Regions from separate parts of the Homo sapiens genome. Here all the other regions are linked to region 3. The links come from fine-mapping of genetic effects on gene expression. A gene starts in region 3. Each other region holds a variant in brackets. All regions are shown on one strand. Distances are between the middles of the regions. Region 1 overlaps TNS4 (tensin 4). Region 2 holds the start of LOC105371773 (a long non-coding RNA gene). Region 3 holds the start of IGFBP4 (insulin like growth factor binding protein 4).

Evidence for each region. PIP is the estimated chance that this variant, and not a neighbour inherited with it, causes the effect. A credible set is the group of variants that fine-mapping cannot tell apart.
Region 1: its variant is the best candidate, but not a certain one, in a credible set for the expression of IGFBP4 in cerebellar hemisphere (GTEx, PIP 0.67).
Region 2: its variant is the best candidate, but not a certain one, in a credible set for the expression of IGFBP4 in whole blood (TOPMed, PIP 0.59).

Annotation. Positions count from the first base shown.
Region 1 is chr17:40,489,686-40,493,849 of GRCh38, forward strand. The region is part of intron 2 of TNS4 (tensin 4); the gene reads right to left. Among named protein-coding and RNA genes, the nearest start is that of TNS4, 9.9 kb to the right of the region's middle. RefSeq lists enhancers at 802-1,427, 3,792-4,164. The variant A/G (reference allele first, on the strand shown) is at 1,536.
Region 2 is chr17:40,514,639-40,518,802 of GRCh38, forward strand. It overlaps LOC105371773 (a long non-coding RNA gene), which reads left to right and starts at 2,307. Exons shown (of 4, transcript NR_188623.1): 1 at 2,307-2,411. The variant T/G (reference allele first, on the strand shown) is at 2,155.
Region 3 is chr17:40,441,740-40,445,881 of GRCh38, forward strand. It overlaps IGFBP4 (insulin like growth factor binding protein 4), which reads left to right and starts at 1,711. Exons shown (of 4, transcript NM_001552.3): 1 at 1,711-2,345. The coding sequence starts at 1,997. RefSeq lists silencers at 1,608-1,797, 1,808-1,857, 1,868-1,917.

The DNA.
Region 1 (4,164 bases), 48 kb after region 3:
TTGGGAGGCTGAGGTACAAGAATCGCTTGAACCCGGGAGGCAGAGGTTGCAGTGAGCCGAGATTGCGCCACTGCACTCCAGCCTGAGTGACAAGAGTGAAGCCCCATCTCCAAAAAAAAAAAAAAAAAGGAAGTGGTTTCTCTGTACCTGCAGTGAAAGCAGGGATTCTCAAGCTTGGTTACACACTAGACTCACCCCAGGCTGCGCCTTGTGCCAATTAGATTAAACTCTCCAGGGGGTGAACCCAGGCCTCAGTTTTGTTTGTTTTCCAGTTTTTCAGGTGAGTCCAGTAGACCATGAATGGCTCAGCAGGACCACATCACCTGGGCTCCACCCCTACAGAAACATAATCTGCATTTTAGCGAGGCCACCCAGGGCATGTGAATATGCAGTGGAGTCTGAGAACCCTGCTTTGGAGCAGGCACTCCCTGAGCACAGGGCTTGCTGCATTCTTGAGCTATGGATCTCCTGGGGATGGTAGCTGGTACACAGGGGTCACCCAACACACCCCAGGCTGCCGACGCGCTCCAGCGCTCTTTCCACTCCCTGGTCGGGGCATCCAGGACTCTTGGGATTCTGAGGCCTTGTTCCTCTCCCGAGGTCGGCCTTGCAGTGGGCTGCTCTGAGGTTCTCCCCAAGGTGAGGATGAACACCCTTCCTCCTGACCTGGGGGAAGGGAATTGTCCTTGGTGCTGTTCCAGCAAAGCTGGAGGAAGGTGGGGGTTAATGAGCCGCTCCTTTCTGAAGAGTGTGAGTCTTGCCTCTAGCTTCCTGGGATGGAGGCTGGGGAAATTGGGGAGAACGTGCACCCTCAGCTCCCACCTGCCTGGGGCCCTGGCACATGCACTGTTCCTCCCCATTATGACTGTGGAGCCCCAGCCTGCCCCAGCCCGCTCCTGGGTAGGGCCATCTGGCCCTGCTCACAGTTACTGCCTCTGTCTGAGCTTGCTTGGGCCACGGTGGGGGTGGGGAGTTACATCAGATGAGCAAGGGCTGGCAGCTGACTGGGACTTGCTGCTCAGCGGGTGGAGGAAGAGCCTAGCTTTGTAGCAAAACAAACCTGGGGTGAGTCCTGGCTTTGCTGCTTTTCAGCCAAGGGCATTGTGCAACTTTCCTAACCTCTCTGAGCCTCAGTTTCCTTATCTGCAAAGTGAGGATCTGAAACCAGTCTTCCAAGGTTGTGATGAGGATGAAATACAATAGCCGGGAGCCTGGCCCATGGTGAGGCTCGAGAGAGGAGCATTTCCTACCTGCCTGCTTTTTGGGGACAGTATTGGCCAAATGGAGCCCTTTTCTGGCTAAGGTGGGGATCTCTCTGCTTAGAAAGATGACTGCAAGAAGAGAGTGTTTGGGGCACTGCATTGTGGGCTCTGGAAGAAAAGAGATCTTGGAATGGGTTGGATTCTTCTGGAAGGCTGGAAAGCACAACTTCAATTTTTATAGGACTTTATAGTGTTTACACCCATAATCTCCTCTGAACCTTATAATAGCCCTTGAGCAGGGCAGGCATTATTTTTTACAGAGGAGGAAACTGA[A/G]GCTTGGAGAAGAGTGGGGATGGAGCTAACACTTAGTGTACAACGATGTTTCACAGAGACTGGTCTTTATTGAGTGCAATGTGCCAGGACCACTACGAACACATTGCTTGTATTAGCTCCTTTAACCCTCATGACAACTCTGTGGAAGTAGGGGATATTATTAATGCCCATATAACAGATGGGAAATCTGGAAGGCTCAGAAAGGTGAAGTGAGTTATCCAATGCTGCACAGCCAGGGAGTGTTGTTGAGCTCTGTTTAGGGACTGCTTCTTCCAGGATGAGGAGGGGCTCCTTGGGAACCTGCTCCAAGGCCTTGCCCTGTGAGAAGGTGCTTGGCTGCTTTGGGGAGGGTCTCTTGGCACAGTGAAGCTCTGGGCTCCCTACTCACTGGGCCATTGAAACATCCATCAGGGACCTTGCTGGGGTCACTGAGTAAGGAGAGCGGGAGGGGAGGGAGGAGCCCCGTGCTCACCTCAAGGTGGGTGTGGCTGGGGGGTGGGGTTGGGGCCTCTACCCATTGCAGGGGTGCAGTCGCTGTTTACTGGCCTGTGGGGCAAGTCTGAGCAGTGCTGGGTGGGTGCCGGCGCCAGCCCCAGGCAGGCGGGTGAGTGGAGGGAGGGCGTGTGGGTGAGGGGTGGAGAGATACTTATTAAATACCCTTCACTTGGGGCGGGTAAACAGCCTTGCCTGGCAGACATTGTTGGAAAATGAAAGTGGGGGGCCTGTTCCAAAGATGGGGTGCGGGGTGTTGGAGAGGATAAAGAAAGGGATATGGTGTTTGCTTCTAGGAACCACATTCTCTGTGGGATGGGGGCCCCCAGGGCAAGTTTAAAGGAAGGCAGGGGCAGGGAACCTGGGGAAGGTTTGTGAAGCACCCAGGAGGTCGCGCCTCAGAAGAGGAGCCTGCAGGCTGCCTCCAAACGGATGGATTCCGTGATGCCCCAGAGGGCAGAAGACTAGACTTTAGAAAGAGAGAAAGGACAGTGGCCTATGGAGCCCAGAGCCTGGGATTTGAGGCCTGACCTATCTCTCCCTGACTGTGTGACTGTGAGCCATCACGTACCCACCCCGAGCCTCAGTTTCCTCATCTGTAAAAGGAGGTTTCCACTATTTCCTTCAAAAGCCAGACACTGGGATCATGGATTACATGGAGTCTTTTTTTTTTTGAGACAGGGTCTCACTCTGTTGCCCAGGCTGGATTACAGTGGCGGGATCTTGGCTCACTGCAGACTCCACCTCCAAGGCTCAAGTGATTCTCCCACCTCAGCCTCCCAATAGTTGGGACTACAAGTTCATGCCATCACACCCAACTAATTTTTGTATTTTTAGTAGAGATGGGTTTTCGCCATGTTGGCCAGGCTGGTACATGGACTAGTTTTTTTTTTTTTTTTTTGTTTTAAGCCTGGGCTGGGTGATATGGCTCATGCCTGTAATCCCAGAACTTTGGGAGGCTGAGGAAGGAGGATTTCTTGAGGTAGCCTGGGCAACATGGTGAGACTCCATCTCTACAAAAAGTTTAAAAATTAGCCAGGTTGGCAGGGCATGGTGGCTCATACCTGTAATCCCAGCACTTTGGGAGGCCAAGGTGGGCGAATCACCGAGGTGGACGAGGTCAAGAGTTCAAGACCAGCCTGGCCAACATGGTGAAACCCCGTCTCTACTAAAAATACAAAAAAATTAGCTGGGCATAGTGGTGGGCACCTGTAATCCCTGCTACTCAGGAGTCTGAGCTATGAGAATCGCTTGAACCTGGGAGGCAAGACTCCATCACCCACCAAAGAAAAAAAAAATAAGAAATTAGCCGGGCGTGGTGACATGTGCCTGTAGTCCCAGCTACTGGGGATGCTGAGGTGGGAGGATTGCTTGAGCCCAGGCATTCAAGGCTGCAGTGAGCTATGATCACACCACTGCACTCCAGGCTGGGCAACACAACGAGACTCTGTCTCAAAAAAAATATGTATATATATTTAGGGGAAATGTCAATATAGAATTGCCAATGTTTAATTTTTAAATTCTGCCAAGTTAGGACAAAAAGGAAAAGTAAACATCTCCTAGCACGGTAATGTCAGAGTGTCTTTCCTTGAACAGCCCAAAAGTAGGAAGGATGAGATTGTAAAATGGCAGGGGATCCTCCACTCTGAATACATTTCGAGGTAAGAGAACTCACCACAACGCTCAGAGTTGTACACTGCTATAGGCCAGTGAGAGATTTGTCACCAGCAGTAGGGTCTGCGGGGAGGATTTTGGGTGCAGGTGTCTGCTGTTCTTAGTGATGGTGGAGAACTTCCCAGTGGGGAGCTGACCTGGCTGGGTTGTCTTAGGAGGTAGTGAGCTCCCAGGCATTGCAGGTGTCCAGGCAGACGTTAGAGGAAGAGATTTTTTTTCTCCATCAGAAGGGGCCAGGGCACAGAGAGGCAGCTTCCTCAGGACCCTCTGGCCACTGCCTGCCTTACATTCCCTGTTCCCCAGAGTTGGGTGGACACATGTTCACAATGGCATGTGGTGCCCAGGGCATCTGTGGATGTGGACCCATGCCATCAGCCCTAAGCTGATCATGAGCCCCTTCCGTGGAGGAAGGGCCTAGTTGTCACCAACCCCCACCCAACATTTGAGGACGTTCCACAGGGAC
Region 2 (4,164 bases), 73 kb after region 3:
ATCTGTGTGTTGGAAAGTCTGCCTGGGCTGCCCCACAGAGGGCATGATGGGGGTGGGGAGGACACCTGGAAAGCTGATACCATGATCTGGGTGAGATAGGGTGGGGTAGGGGAGTCACCCTAAGGCTGGGCAGTGAGAGAAGTAACAGGATTGAGGGATTGTGCTTAGCTGGTTTGGGCTTGAGTGACTGGGTAATTGGGGGCACCATCCATCCCAGTAGGGAAACAGGAGGTATGTAGGTTTAATGGTGAGGATGGAGATGCATATGCATTAAGTTTGAGGACCTGATGATTTGAGGTGCTCATGGGACATCCAAAGTGAGATGTCTGAGGGAGAGCTGATATAAAGATTTGGAGGCCAAATAAAAGTTAGGGCTGTAGTTTGATATTTGGGGCTCATCATCCTACATCAAATACAGATGAGTTAAGGGGCCACAGAATGCTCTGGAAGCTGCACAGGATGACTTTGGTGCCCTGTGCATCCACCGTTGGCATTCGCTGTTCCCCTGCATGCTGAGGCTTCTGCCTGCATCCCTGCAGTTCTGCCAGAGGCCTTCTCTGCAGACAGAAGCAGGCTGTCTGTCCTGTGCATGGGACAGGTTAGGAGTGTTGTGGAGTTGATGACCCCAGGAGCAGCCTTCAGCCAGTGACAGATGCGAACTGGATGATGAAAACCATCTTTACTTCCTGTAGGTGTGTTCTGCCATCTCTCAGGGGCTTCCAGTGGGATTGCGTTTGAGTTCCCAGTTGCCCACAGGGGCTTGTCAGTCCTCCTCCATTGGCTTCCTCCCCCTTTCTGTGTCACTCTTCCATTTCCCTACAGTGCTTCCTGGGATCACCTGCCAAGTCAATGAATCTCATGCTCATCCTTGTCTCAGAGTCTGCTTCTGGGGAACCCGTTCTAAAACACTGGTTTCCTTCAGTAGGATGTGCGTCTGCATTGACTGCTTCCTGTCTTGATTGCTTCTTCATGTTTCCAGCATGTCTTGACTCTCAACTGGCCTGGAAGTGGCTTCAGGGTGTTTTCATCTCTGTGTCTCCAGCACCAGGATGCCAGGGGAAGGGATTCCTCAGCAAGCGGTTGTTGGATATATGAATGAATAAACCCACCAGTGGCTTCTCATTGCTTTTAGGATCGAGACCCAACTGTTCAATAAGCTTCACAAGGCTCCTTCCCACCTCTCCACCTCCACGTCCCGCCACCCTCCCCCACCCTCTGATGGTGCGTGTGGCACATGCCGGTCTCTGCCTGACTGCTCCTTCGCCAAGCCATCCTCTTGACACAGTACTAGTTCACACCTCCTCCCCCATCCTTCCCTTAGCACTCCTCCATTTCCCACTCCCCGCCCCCTTCTCAGAGAACTCAGGCATCCTCTCTGCAGCAAAGATGTCCCTGACCACCGTCCCCAGCCCAGACCAGTTGGGGCCCTACTGTTCTAACCTCCTGTAGCACTCTGTGTATTTCTTCATGCTCCCTATCATTGACTTCGGTTATGAATTTTTTTTTTTTTTTTTGAGACGGAGTTTCGCTCTTGTTGCCCAGGCTGGAATGCAGTGGCGCGATCTCGGCTCACTGCAACTTCCGCCTCCTGGGTTCAAGCGATTCTCCTACCTCAGCCTCCTGAGTAGCTGGGATTACCGGCATGCACCACCACGCCTGGCTAATTTTTTTTTGTATTTTTAGTAGAGATGGGGTTTCACCATGTTGGTCAGGCTTGCCTCGTACTACTGACCTCAGGTGATCCACCTGCCTCGGCCTCCCAAAGTGCTGGGATTACAGGTGTGAGCCACCATGCCCGGCCTTGGAATTATTTAAATAATGCTTAGAATGATGTTTCTCAAACTTTTCTGATTATGAACCACAGGAAGAAATACATTTTATGCCAGGACCCAGTTCACGTAATACATGTATAACTGAATGCTTATCCTCACTGCTTGGGCTACACTAATATTTTCTATCCCATTCTGTATTGCATTTAAAAAAATGCTGGCTGTGACTCACTAAATGGACTATAGGCTGGCAGTTGGGAAAAAGGTCTAGACAACAAGATAGATGCCTGCAAATTCAGGAGAGTAGGGACTTAATTCACTTGTACTCACTGCTGTCCCCCAGGGCACTGCACAGTGTCTGGCACCCAGAAAGGTGCTCAATCAA[T/G]ATTTGTTGAATGACCATATGATAGGAACAAATATGTATGAATGAGTGAATGAATTGCCTGCCCCACCCAGACAGGAAACTGTGGCTTCTATCAGATTTTGCTGTTACCGAAAAATACCAGCCCACTTCCTGTGGCTTTGATCTGCAGCCTTAATTCTAAACTGCCCTGCCTCAGCCAACAGCTATCTGCAGCTCATTTCCTGCTTTCTGGCCATCTTATCTCTGTCTTCAAGCATTCCTCAGCTTTCTCTTTCCAGGTAAGTATACCCAGAGCCCCAGTTCTTCCTCTTGCAACTTTGGCAGCACAGGGTGGGGCTGCCCTTTTGGGCCAAGTACTATCCCAGATCTCAGGCTCCTGGGGTGTGGGGCCTTTCTGGGTCAGGCGTGTCCTTCTGATTCCAGCCTCCTGGGGGGCAGGTGCTAGGGCTGGGCCTGGGCATCGGTCCACATCCTGTTGATGGTCTTTGGGACAGGATGGGGGATGAGGATGGAGGGTAGACATTGATGAAATAACCATGCAGATGTCTAATTATGGACTGTGAAAGAGGCTATGAAGGAAAAGTCAAGGTTGCCTTGAGAATGTGTAACAAGGGACATGCCTATAGGGGATCACGGAGAGCTGCCTCAATTAATCCAAGATCTGAATACAATAGAAGCTAGCCAGGCAAAAAGGGTAAAGGAGAGAGAAAGAACTTGCAGATGGAAGAGACTGCAGGTGCAAAGGTCCTGGGGTAGGAGTGAGTGATAGCGGTCCTGTTGAGGAGCTGAAGAAAACTCAGTGCAGCTGGTGGACAAAGACAGAAGGATTTACAACAAGGAGGCCAGAGAGGCACCTAGGGGCCAGCCCCAGTGCACCAGCTTAGAGGTTTTGGATTTACCTTGAAAACAGTGGGAAGCAACAGAACATTTGTAGAAGCGTGATGACATTGTGTTTGGTTTTTTTAATTTGTTTTTGTTTATCTATTTTTATTTTTATTTATGTATTTTTGAGACAGGGTCTCGCTCTGTCGCCCAGGCTGGAGTGCAGTGGTGCTATCTCAGCTCACTGCAATCTCCACCTCCCGGGTTCAAGAATTCTCCTGCCTCAGCCTCCTGAGTAGCTGGGACTACAGGCACATGCCACCATACCCAGCTAATTTTTTTGTATTTTTAGTAGAGACGGGGCTTCACCCTGTTAGCCAGGATCGTCTCAATCTCCTGACCTCGTGATCTGCCCATCTCGGCCTCCTAAAGTGCTGGGATTACAGCAGTGAGCCACAGTGCCCGGCCCTGTTTTGGTTTATTTTTGAGACAAGGTCTTCTCTGTCACCCATGCTGGAGTGCAGTGGCACGATCATAGCTCACTGTAGCCTTGACCTCCTGGGATCCAGCAATCCTCCCAAGACATTGTGTTTTGCAAGATCCTCTGGATGTGGTATGGCTAAAGGGTTGGGGAGCTGATCAAGTGCAGAGGGCAGGAGCCTAGGGTGGTGGTGGTGGAGATACAGGCACATGACTGGCTTTGAGAAGTACAGTACTTAGTAAGTACAGTCCAATATAGTCCAATACAGTAGAGTTGAATTTGTCCATTCAACAGTGTTAAACACCATGACTCTAAGGACCAGAGAGCCAGGCTGGGTTCTGCCTTTAGGCAGCTCTCAGTCTTCTGGGAGTGCAAGTTGGAGGCAGATTGGCCAGGCTGAAAATGCAAAGTGCTCAGGGATGTTCAAATAGCAAGCATGCCTCCTGGAGTGCATGCCCAGAGGAAGAAGGAGCACCTTCAGTGGGTGCTTTCCTGCAAATACTGTTTGAGTTCCAGGCAGAAGAGAAAACAGGGTGCTGGGAGAGGATTCATTAGGGTCTCCTTCCTGACTCCTCACCATCATTTATAGGACTTTTGGCTACAGGGATCTTCCCTGCATTTCACCGGGGCCTATAGTAGGGCTGAGAGTGTGAGAGGGAACAGGGGTCTCCCCAAGTGCCTGGGGCAGCGAGCCTTGTAGGTCAGGTGAGGGTGGCATCCAGACTGGG
Region 3 (4,142 bases):
GGATCACTGTAACCTCCTCCTCCTGGGGTTCAAGCGATTCTTCTGCCTCAGCCTCCCAAGTAGCTGGGATTACAGGCATGCGCCACCACGCCCGGCTAATTTTTGTATTTTTAGTAGAGATGGGGTTTCACCGTGTTGGCCAGACTGGTCTCAAACTCCTGACCTCAGGTGATCTGCCCACCTTGGCCTCCCAAAGTGCTAGGATTACAGGCATGAGCCACTACGCCTGGCCTTCTTTTTTCTCTTTCTTTCTTTTTTTTTTTGAGATGGAGTCTCGCTCTGTCGCCCAGGTTGGAGTGCAGTGGCGCAATCTCAGCTCACTGCAAGCTCCACCTCCCGGGATCATGCCATTCTCCTGCCTCAGCCTCCCTAGTAGCTGGGACTACAGGCACCCGCCACCACGCCCGGCTAACTTTTTGTATTTTTAGTAGAGAGGGGGTTTCACCGTGCTAGCCAGGATGGTCTCGATTTCCTGACCTCGTGATCTGCCCGCCTCGGCCTCCCAAAGTGCTGGGATTACAGGCGTGAGCCACCGCGCCCGGCCTTCTTTCTTTCTTTCTTTTTTAGACAGAGTTTCCTTCTTTCACCTAGGCTGGTGTGCAGTGGTACAATTCTAGCTCACTGCAGCCTCCAACTCCTGGGCTCAAGTGATCCTCTTGCCTCAGGCTCCCGAGTACCTGGGACCACAGGTGAACGCCACCACACCTGGCTAATTTTAAAATTTTTTTGTAGAGACAAGGTCTCACTACGTTGCCCAGACTGGTCTTGAACTCCTGGGCTCAAGTGATCCTCCCGCCTCAGCCTCCAAAAGTGCTGACATTACAGGTGTGAGTCACTGCTGCAGGCCCCTCAAATCCTTCACTGCCATCTGGGAAATGATCACAACAGCTCTACAAATACACAATGATTACAAGGAATGGTGCCCCACTGGAGTTGTTCAACGCAAAACTTGCACATTGCAAGTGGCAATCTCCCAGGCCTGCCTCCCTCCACGAGTGGGTCTGAATGGGCCTGAGAGGCAAACATCCAAGAAGGAGGAAGAGGCTCGGCGGCACCTCCCTCCCCGGGAGTTCTGCTGATTCCATCTTGGGGAAGCAGGGTGGACCAGGGCCCAAATGCGCCCTGGGGAGATTGCGGGGGCGGGAGAGGTTGCAAGGGGCAAGTGGCAAGAGCCTGTTAACGTCTTAGGGCCTCCAGGCCTTTCTGTGCCCCTAGCTGTGCCTGTACGCTTTACCCCACCTCAGGAGGCTTGGTCTCCAGCGGTTGAGGCTGGAAGCACCGGGGTGCGGTGGAAAGGGCTCTGTCCAGGAAGACCGGATCCGCAGAGCCGGGAGTCCGGGCTAGGAAGTCCCTTTCTCGGTGGGAGACTGAGGCCGCCTTGGCGGGGCGGGACGAGACTCCTCCGAGGTCGGGAAAGGGGGCCCCGCAGCAGCCCCTTGGCTTCCCTTCTCCCTTGCCTCCCCTCCGGGGCTCCGGTTCAGAGGCACTCTGGGCGCCTGCTACAGCTTCCAAACTGCGCCGCTTCCTTCTTCGGCAGAAAAGGACTTTCAGATGCGGCGGCGGCGGCGGCGGCGACTCAGGACAGCGCCCCCTCCCCCTAACGGCCGCCTCTCCCTCTCCCCCTCGCCCGCCCCGGCTCCCCCACCTCTGGGAAGGCGCTGGGGGTGTGGCCAGGGACCGGTATAAAGTCCGGGGGAGCCGGTCCCGGGCAGCCGCTCAGCCCCCTGCCCCTCGCCGCCCGCCGCCTGCCTGGGCCGGGCCGAGGATGCGGCGCAGCGCCTCGGCGGCCAGGCTTGCTCCCCTCCGGCACGCCTGCTAACTTCCCCCGCTACGTCCCCGTTCGCCCGCCGGGCCGCCCCGTCTCCCCGCGCCCTCCGGGTCGGGTCCTCCAGGAGCGCCAGGCGCTGCCGCCGTGTGCCCTCCGCCGCTCGCCCGCGCGCCCGCGCTCCCCGCCTGCGCCCAGCGCCCCGCGCCCGCGCCCAGTCCTCGGGCGGTCATGCTGCCCCTCTGCCTCGTGGCCGCCCTGCTGCTGGCCGCCGGGCCCGGGCCGAGCCTGGGCGACGAAGCCATCCACTGCCCGCCCTGCTCCGAGGAGAAGCTGGCGCGCTGCCGCCCCCCCGTGGGCTGCGAGGAGCTGGTGCGAGAGCCGGGCTGCGGCTGTTGCGCCACTTGCGCCCTGGGCTTGGGGATGCCCTGCGGGGTGTACACCCCCCGTTGCGGCTCGGGCCTGCGCTGCTACCCGCCCCGAGGGGTGGAGAAGCCCCTGCACACACTGATGCACGGGCAAGGCGTGTGCATGGAGCTGGCGGAGATCGAGGCCATCCAGGAAAGCCTGCAGCCCTCTGGTAAGGTACCCCTGGCCTCCCAATTCCCTCCTGAGTGCGCTCCCTTCCCAGCGGCTTCTTCCCCATTCCAGCCGCCCTGGAAGGCCCTTAAAAATCCCCTATGAGTTGAAGAGAAGGCAGGTACGTGGCAGGGCCCGACTGGCATGGGACAGGCTCATCAAGGAAACTGCTACCGAGTCCCTAGCAGCCTGTTGCCACCACCAAGGGAGACTGTCCCATCGCTCCATCTCAAACCTCCAAGGGTTGTCTGTTTGATAAGGGGGTCCCAGTGGGAGGCCTGGCTGCTGGTGCAGGAGTGGCAGATTAAGGTCCAGTTAAGTCAGCTGTCTAGGGCCAGAGAACTGGAGGATGGTGGTGGGGTGTGTGTTGGGGAGGATGAGGGAGTGGGGAAAGCTTTCTGTTCCTGATCCAGGCCGAGGGTGAAATCCCAGTGGTCTGGGGAGCCAGGGCCTGAACTTTTTTTTTACATGGTCCAGTGGTGGAGTGGGACATACAAATTAGAGGGACTTTGGCGTTGAGGGGCATTAGACTTGCCCTTCCCCAAAGCCCAGAGCCAGGTCACCTTGTTGTTTGAGAGGCAGTGGGAAGACAGGGGTCCCTCTGCCAGGCCTGGACACCTCTGCCTGCCCTGGTATACAGGCCCCCTGTTCTTTTCTCCAGGCAGGTAGGATTTGAGGTGGTAGAAAAGTCTTGGCTCCTAGCCGAGAGCTGCAGGAGCCTCATGTGTGTGGGATAGGGAATAGAGAAGGGGCCAGGGCGCCAGGGGAGAGAAACAGAGAGAGAGAGAGAGAGAGAGAGAAACACACACACACACACACACACACACACACACACACACACACAGAGACAGAGAGAGAGAGAGAGAGAGAGAGAGAGAGAGAGAGAGAGAGAGAGAGAGAGACTCTGAGAAGGCCCTTGCCCTAACCTCATTCTTACACTTTCTTTTTTTGTTTCTCAGTTTCTCCTTAGACTCTCAGTCTCTTTTCCTTCTTTCTCTTGCTCTTTTGTTCTTCCTGATTTGTCTCTCAACCTCTAGTTTCACTAGTCATGCTCTCGAGTTCTGTTTTCCTCAGTGTCTTCTGCCCATCGTGCGTTTCTTTCTCCACCTTATTCTGTGTTTCTGTTTCAGTTGCTCTGCTTCTCTCCCTCTCTTTCTGTTGCTGTTTCTCTGTGTCTCTGTCACTGTTGGTCTTTCCCTGTTACTTTGGGAATCTCTCTGTCTGTCTTTCTGTATCTATGCCTCTGTTTCTCATTCCATCTCCGACCCTGTTTTGCTCTCCTGTGCCTCTGTCTGTCTCTGTCTCTTTTCCTGGTGCTTGAAGCTTCCATTGTTGCAGTCCGGATGCTGGGACTCCAGCCCCAAGCTTCCTGTCCTGGGACCCAAACCCTCCACTTCCTCAATCCTCTGCAGCTTGTCAGCCGAGGAGAGCAGGATGCAGGGAAAACAGGAAGGAGGTGGACTCCAGGGGTCTGGGCCTCGGGCCTCTCTGCCCTTCCTGCCCCTGGGTAGGGAGAGATGGGTCAGCAGAAAACATTCTAGGAGAAATGCCAGCCTGGCACCCAGCATATCTGGGAAGGGGGGTCCTGGGGGAGAAAGTCGCTAATCTTGGGGCAGAGATGCCAGTGGCAATGGTAGAGGAGGGGTACTGAGACTGGGAGGGAGCAAGGGCCGAGCCCTTGGGTTCGCGGGGTACAACAGAGTCACGTTCCCTTTGAATCTCCATCCTCCACCAGCCAGAGGGTATCTGGCACCAGATAAGGATGGCTGGTAGCCTCCTCCTCTCTCAGCACTTTGAA